Linked DNA regions of Homo sapiens. The protein of the gene in region 1 interacts with the protein of each later gene in a pairwise test. Each region holds a gene or a part of one and is shown on either strand. Other genes may lie near its edges.

What was found.
Region 2: the proteins of TRIP12 (region 1) and MTNR1B interact in binary tests that used the Homo sapiens proteins (3 or more experiments, as listed by UniProt).

What each region holds. Positions count from the first base shown.
Region 1 is NC_000002.12:229,920,091-229,923,836, reverse strand, and holds the start of TRIP12 (E3 ubiquitin-protein ligase TRIP12), read left to right. Parts: upstream 1-1,827; 5' UTR 1,828-1,957; intron 1,958-2,047; exon of another isoform or gene 2,048-2,566; intron 2,567-3,746. Other genes in the region: FBXO36 (F-box only protein 36), read right to left, coding at 1,228-1,323. UniProt on the Homo sapiens protein: E3 ubiquitin-protein ligase involved in ubiquitin fusion degradation (UFD) pathway and regulation of DNA repair.
Region 2 is NC_000011.10:92,967,753-92,971,498, reverse strand, and holds the start of MTNR1B (melatonin receptor type 1B), read right to left. Parts: upstream 1,849-3,746; 5' UTR 1,774-1,848; coding exon 1,551-1,773; intron 1-1,550.

The DNA.
Region 1 (3,746 bases):
AAAAAGTACAGAAAAGGATACCTTTCAGTATTTCATACATCACTAAATGTGCAAAACCCCCTAAGAACAGTTTAATTAAAAATTTGAGTCTGACCCTGGGCCCACTGCCTATGAATTAGCCCTGCTCCGCAAGGAGCAGTACTGTTTTAAAAAAAATTTTTTTTGGACAGGCTGATTTTACATTTGTAATATTTCTAAATCTTAAATTAAAAAATATATATTAACATTTATATTTTAAAAGATGCTTTCAAAAATATAAAAAAATTAACTCATTACCTATTTTGTTTAAGGGCTCCTGGAAAAACTGAGGGAATGATCAATATGCACACCAAAACAAATATATACAAACTTCTAAATTTCATTTTATAGGAATAGTATCTATTGAAAGGGCAGGGTGCATGAATAACTCAGTGACAGGCGTAAACTCAGCCAGGATTAGAAACGTCTTCCCAATGGAGGCCCCGCTCAAGTTGAGAATTTCATGGACACAGTAAATCATCCAAAAGCCCACCTTCAATAACCAAAGTAGGCATAAAAATAGGCCGATGGTTACTTTGGAGATAATATAATCCTCGGTCTTATTGTTGTGGAGCAGATGTCATTATGGGTGGGGCTGAAGCGCAGAGCAGCTGAAACATTTTTATACCACCACCCGCACACTTTCAATGGGATAGAAGGGACTCCAAAAGGTAAGAGCTCCCAATCGTCAGTTGCTACTAGAAATAACTAAGTTTTGATGTGGCCGTGGCACGCGTAAAGGCCACAAAGAGATTTATAAAATTCTCCATGATTAATTCCTATCCTGGAAAAGAGGCAATCTCCTTTTCCCCTCCCTAGCCGGCTCCTCCTTGGGACACTTGGCTGAGTCGTTCTTTCCCTCCTTCTCACGCTGAGGTGAGGCCGCACGCAAGCCGGAGACGCCCGTTTTCCTCTTCGCGCGGAGGAAACTCTACGGGTAAGAAGCCGGGGTGGCGGGAAAGGAGCACGCGGCACCGCGGGGAGGCAGAGAAGGCTTGCCAGGGACTAGCCGGGCTCGGGGAGAGCAGGGACACGCGGGCCGTCGGACCGAGGAGGCCGAGGTGACGAGGAAAATCTCCCGGCGCGGAGCCGGGACTGGGCGCTTCCGGCGGGCTACGGTTGCTCTTGGCCTAGCACAGCCTGCGTCCCGGGCCCCAACCGGGCCAGGTAGGGAGTTAGGAGAGAGGGTAAACCGCGGCTCGCACTTGCCTGAGACCGGGTGACCAGTAACTGGTAATAGTCTTTGCTAGGCGGCGGGCCTTGTCCTACAGTTTCAAAGAGAGTCTCCGGCAGCCACGACGCCATCTTGGGACGCCACCGCCGTCGCTAAGACAACCAGGAAGGGGCGGGGCTTGGTTGGGGTCAAGGGGCCAAAACCCTAGTTTAAATTGAACCACGCTTATGAGCTGGCAGAAGGATTTCTAACTTGGGGCGATCGTCCCCTCTTCCAAGGGTCTTAGGGAACCCTGATCCGTGAAATTTCCAGCTCCAGGTCCCGGGTGACCCGAGGGGGAATTAGTTCCTGCTACCACGGAGGGGAGGGGGTGACCCCGGCGGAGGGATACCAAGTAGATCTCCACAGTCCCCTTCCTGGTCCCTCGAAGGGATCGGGCGGAGATCGGAGGCTGCTGAGAGAGTCGAGCCGGGAGGCGTGGGAGGGAGGGGCGATGTGATGGGCCGCCAGTAGGCAGCGGTGCCGGTCCCGCGGACGAGCCCGTAACCGGAGCCCGAGGACAAAGTAGTTCCCCGAGGGTGTCAGAGCAGGCGGGGAGGGAGGCGGCACGGGCGGAGGCGCACGCCGGGCGCGGTGCTGCGGCTCAGCTGATAATTGAAGGAACCCGGAGCCGCCGCCGCCGCGCCGCTGGGGGGGGTGGGGGGAGCTAGTGGAAGTTACTGCCGCGCCACCGAGTCCGGACCGGAGACTTTGGGGCCTAACTAGGTAATTGGGGCGCAGCTCTGGGCGGCGGGGGCAAGCCTTGGGGGAGGGGGCCAGCTGAGGGGTTGGGGGGGCGGGGGGAGGAGCTGGAACAGAAAGTCCCAGGAAGCCCGGTTGTGTCATCGCCGCGATTCGGCCCCCGCTTGGCCTGCTCCCGGCGCCGGCGGCGGCGGGGCCGCGGAAGGACCGGGCCGGGGGTGGACGGGAGAGACGCTCGAGGGCGGCCGCGGCCGGAGGGACCGGGGCCTGGCGGGAGGTAGGGGTCGCTGGGTCCCTCCTCCGGCTTCCCGCAATGAGGAGGGCCCTTCACAGAACCGGGGTAAGGCTTGCGGGTGTTGGGGAGCTCGGCGGGGACCAAGGGGGGCCGGAAGTGGGCTTTGGAGCTTGGAGGGTGTCTGGGAAGAGAGAAAGTGGGGGGCCGGAAGTGCAGGTGGGGGGTGTGAAGACGGCAAGGGTTCCCCGGAAATGGGACGAGGGGCCCGGAAATCGGGAAAGGGGAGGCTCCGGGGCCGTGGACGGCCCGGAAATGGAAACTAGGAAGCAGCTCCAGTGACAACAGTTGTGGGAAGCGAGGGTCAGAGAAGGGAGAGGCCAGAGAGACTTTAGACCGCAGTAAGGGGTTTCCTGCCCAGGGGGACGGCGAGGGACGGTTGAGGGAGGGCGAGCCCGGAGACGGGGTCTGCGCGGGGCAGTTTTTTAAGCCGTGGGAAGTTGAGGCTGAGGGAGGATGATGACGAGGGGGGCATGCAGGGAGGCCTAAAGAAGCCGAGAAACTTGACTGAGAGGAATAGAGTATCCTTTTAAATAGATCAGAATGGAAATTGGTGGTAGGTGGGTTTAACTAGGACTTGGGGGAGGGAGGTGGGCCAATTGTCACCCCAATCGTATTAGCATTCAGAGCGAGTCAGGCGATTAATTTATTTATATGTGGATTACATAAAACCTATTATTTACAACGTTTGTCCATCAGTTCAGCCCCTCTCCTTCCTTCTCCATAGTGAGTGGGTTTCTAGTACAGGAACAAGTTAGAGGGGAGTTCGAATAACGAAGGTAGTAAAACCTCAAATCCTGTCTTCCTCGGCGTCTCTCCCTTCCTCAGAATAAGAAATCCTTCATTTCCTAGACGGAAAAATGCGGAAAAACATAAAAACACATGTAAATCGGGGGGAAATCACACTTTGAACTCCTGGTGGGGGACAGGAGGGAATTGGTTACCTTACGTGGTGAGGAGATAACGGAAGGGGCAGCTTCCAAACCCTTAAGACAAATGTTGTGTTTTTTTGATAATGCTGTTTTACTTTGGGGGAGGTTTAGCCTAAGCATCGAGTCTGGTGGTGGGCATAGTTTAATTGCTTCTTTAGTTAATTGGGGGAGGGAATGTGTTTGTGTGTAAAGGTTGGGCCGGTGCGGGGGGAGGCGGGTACGGTTAATAGCGCAGTGAATCCGTTCTAAGTGGACGTCTAACTGCTCTCCTGCTGTCTCCTTTCCTAGTCGCGGTCCTCGATCTTGCCTGGGCTGCCAGATCACCCGATCTCCGGGCTTTACTCCGTTTTGTAGGCCCTTTAGTGATGTGTTTAACTTTATGTTCCTCTCGAGAGTCTCATTAGGTATTTTTGGCATTTCATTTTTTAAAGACCTAGCAAGTTGAGTCTCAGAGTCTCCTCTTTAAAAACAAAACAAAAAATACGGGGTAGAAAGTTGAAAGAGCTATTGAGTGGGGTAAAACGACGCTCAGAACAAAGGTCCTAGTTGTGTTAGAAAAAAAGGCAAGAGGCCTGTATATGAGGCCTGT
Region 2 (3,746 bases), on another chromosome or scaffold:
AATGTGTCAAAAATATTAAATGCAGTTTTCTAATCATAACCTGTTTTTCCCTAATATATAAGCTTTTCTTCAAAGGACACAATATTTTGAACAATGTATTCCAGAAAACAGCCACCACTACTGAAGTGAGTTAGAAAGTTTACTTCTTCTTAATAATGTTATGTTTCCCATATGATGGCTGGATACTCACAGTTGGAGGAGTTTCTTGTTTGTTTTTTTAGCTAAAAATCCTAGAGTTGGCCGGGCGCAGTGGCTCATGCCTGTAATTCCAGCACTTTGGGAGGCCGAGGCGGGTGGATCACTTGAGGTCAGGAGTTCGAGACCAGCCTGGCCAACATGGTGAAATACTGTGTCTACCAAAAATATAAAAAATTACCTGGGTGTAGTGGCGAGCGCCTGTAATCCCAGCTACTCGGGAGGCTGAGGCAAGAGAATCCCTTGAACCTGGGAGGCAGAGGTTGCAGTGAGCCTAGACCATGCCACTGCACTCCAGCCTGGGTGACAGAGTGAGAGACTCCATCTCAAAAAAAAAAAATTTCTAGAGTCACAGGCCACACCAAATACATATTACTATTTGCTAAAAATGGTCTGACTCCTTAGAAAAGCATTTTTAAGCTATATGGTTGTTTTACTGCTGCTATCTTTCCATTTTAATTCACTCTAATATTTGAATTTGCTCCCAAGGCCCAACTTGAAGAAACTGCAAAATTAACAAACAGGTGACTGAGCTCCTTCCTAAGCTGAAGTGGTCATCATGCCCCATGACCTGTGAGGGCTAGAGTTCAGATACTGCCCCCCACTCTGGTTTTGTTTCTTTGAAGACCTGACTAGGGGAATATTGAAATGAGAGTGGATTGAAATAGGAAAAATATTTTCAGGATTACAACACGATTTAGCCAAATCATTGCTTTAATTTTCACAGTTAATCCCAGGAATTCCCAGTCTTCGGAAAAGACCACAATATTTCAAAGCAATTTAGTTCAGTCCAAGCAGAATCTGCAATTTCTGCATTTACTCTCCGTCAACTGGAATTGGGTCTTCAGATGACCTGGAGATAAGTTTTTGACACAAAACCTACTGAAATGCTTCCATTGATTAACTCATTTTTTCAGCAAGGATTTTCTAAGCGACTACTACATAAAGCTACAGTGCTTGGCAAGGAAGGAAGTGGGATGTCAAGTACAGGTGGTGAGATTTCTGTGGCCTGATGTGGGCACCTCTGGAAAGACACGCATTGGAGCGCGACGGGGTAGCGATGGCATCCAGCAGCGTGGGTTCCCACAGCGCCGGCGCCCGGCCAAAAAGCGCGCCAGTAAAACTTTCCGCAATTCCCTCTGTGCCAAGCGCGTCCTGGGCAGCCGCACTTCGGAGGGGCAAAACTCACCCTAACTTTTGAGTGCAGAGTCAAACTTAAGGAATAGGTTAGAGTGAAGGGAAAGGGGAGCCCGGGCTGAGGAGGGAAAAGGCAGCGCATATCCCGGGGTCAGGGACAAGATCAGAAGACAAGGAAGGGCCCGATGCCAGCACCCAGCATCAGGAATGGTGCTCACCTGCGTTCCGGAGCTTGCGGTTCCTGAGCACGGAGAGGATCACCAGGAGGTTGCCCACGACGTCCACGGCGGTGGTGACGATGAGCACCGCGGACAGCGCTGGAGCCACCCAGGGAGGTCGAGGGGTCCTGGAGGGCCGCGCGCTGCCAGCCCCCGACCAGCCCGGGCGCACTGCCCACCCGCCCGCCTCGCAGCAGTTGGCGAAGGAGCCGTTCTCTGACATCGCAGACTCTCCCGCGCTGTGCTTTGGCCACCGCGCGGCCCCGGACAGCCGCAGGGCGCGCGCAGTACTGAGCCGGGCGCTCTCTTCCCTGCCCAGCTCGCGTGTGCAAGGGAGGAGGCCAGTGGGGAGGGGTCTGGAGGAGATAACTAATTAAGCGTGGGCAGGGGATGGAGAAAAATATAGGAATGGGAGGAGGACTTGGGGTGCAGCCGTTGTAGAAGGGAGTGCGTCCCTCAGCGGTGCGCTCAGGAACAGCTGGGACCGCACAGCTGTCTCTGCCACCCCGAGCCCAGCAGGTGCCTGGCCCACCTCAGGCTGCGGAGCGCGTCTAGCTTCTGTCCCTGAGTATATAGCCACACCCGAGACCCCGATTTCCTCCACAGCGTCCCCAAGAGAAGCTGTGTCTAGGTAGGGACGTCCAACCCAGGTTGATAGACTGGAGAAGGTGCTGATGGTAGGGACCTCCCATCAGTTGTCAAGAAAGGCAAGGTTTGACGTCCCATAGGGCTGTGCAGCCCGAAAGAGAATGCAACTCCTAAGATGTGGGGACAGAGCCCAGAACAAAGTAGGGTAGACTGTTATATTCTAGGGAGCTGCAGAAAAATACGAACCTAGCCATTTTCCAAGCACTCGCTGGGTATTGTGGGGGGCATTGATGATGTCTCTACTGGGTCCTCTTTATAAAGCCAATACTTTAACATATTTACCAACATATATTTACACATAATACTTAAATAGATGTATGGCCAATATTGGGGGTTATGATGTGGTTTTTGGAGGGGTTAGGACAAGAAGAAGATTGAGGCATGATTACAATAAAGAAGGAACTCAGGTGCCCTTTATTAAAAATGTTTGAGTCGTGATCTGGTGATAATAATAATAGATAACTTCTAATGGGGGCTAATCTTATGACCCCAAAGCACTTTTCACACCCATTAGAATCACTAAAATCAAAATGACTGATTATCCTATATTTGTGGAGGAAGTTAAGCAACCAGAACCCTCATACACTGCTTTTATGAGAATGCAAAATGGTATAGCCACTTTGAAGAGCTGTCTGTTAGCTCCTAATAAAGTTAAATATACACCTATTCTATGACCAGAAGTTCCAAATGAAAAGGAAAGTATATTTCCACCAAAAGACCTGTACAAGAATGTCCAGAGCAGCCTTGTTTATAGGAGCTCAAATCTGGTAACACCTGCAATTTCCACCAACAGAAGAATGGATAAGCAAATTATGGTATGACCTTGCAATGGAATACTACTCAGCAATAAAGATGATTGACCTACACAACAGCATGGATTAATCACAAATATGTTGTATTGAACAAAAGAAGCCAGATACCAAAAAATATATACCATATTATTCCAGTTATAGGAAGTCCAAAATCAGGGAAAATTAATCTATTTTCTAATAGAAATCAGAAAAGTGGTTACATTTGAGGGTGGGTATTGAGAAACAAACACCAAAAAATTTCTGGATTGTTATTTTTACATATGTTATTTTACGTAAGTTATATTGCCCCTCTCCTTTAAAGGGGGGAAAAAAAGAAGGAAGGATGCAGTGGAGACGGAGGGGCTGATGATGCAGAGGCATGAGTGGATGTTGAAGGGAAGGGAGAGGGAAGGGAGAGGTGAAGTGAGCTCATCCTTGAAGTGAGCTAATCCAGAACTCCTTAAAGTGAGCTCATCCAAAACCCAAGGAAGAAATATTATTTGTTAGGAGAGGGAGGCTTTCTTTCTTGTAGTAGAAAGGAATCAGAAGCCAGATGCAAATTCAGATGCACTTCTAAACTGGTGTGAGGAAAGAAGAGAACTCTTGTCTGGCTTCTGTATTCTCAGGGAGATAGAGGCTACCCATTAGCCAGGATTCAGGGGAACAGTGTAGGAGATTTGAAGACAAAAAAAAGATATGAAGGAGCACTTCAGAAAGTGGAAACATTAACTAGTAAAGTATAACAGGCGTGTCAGGA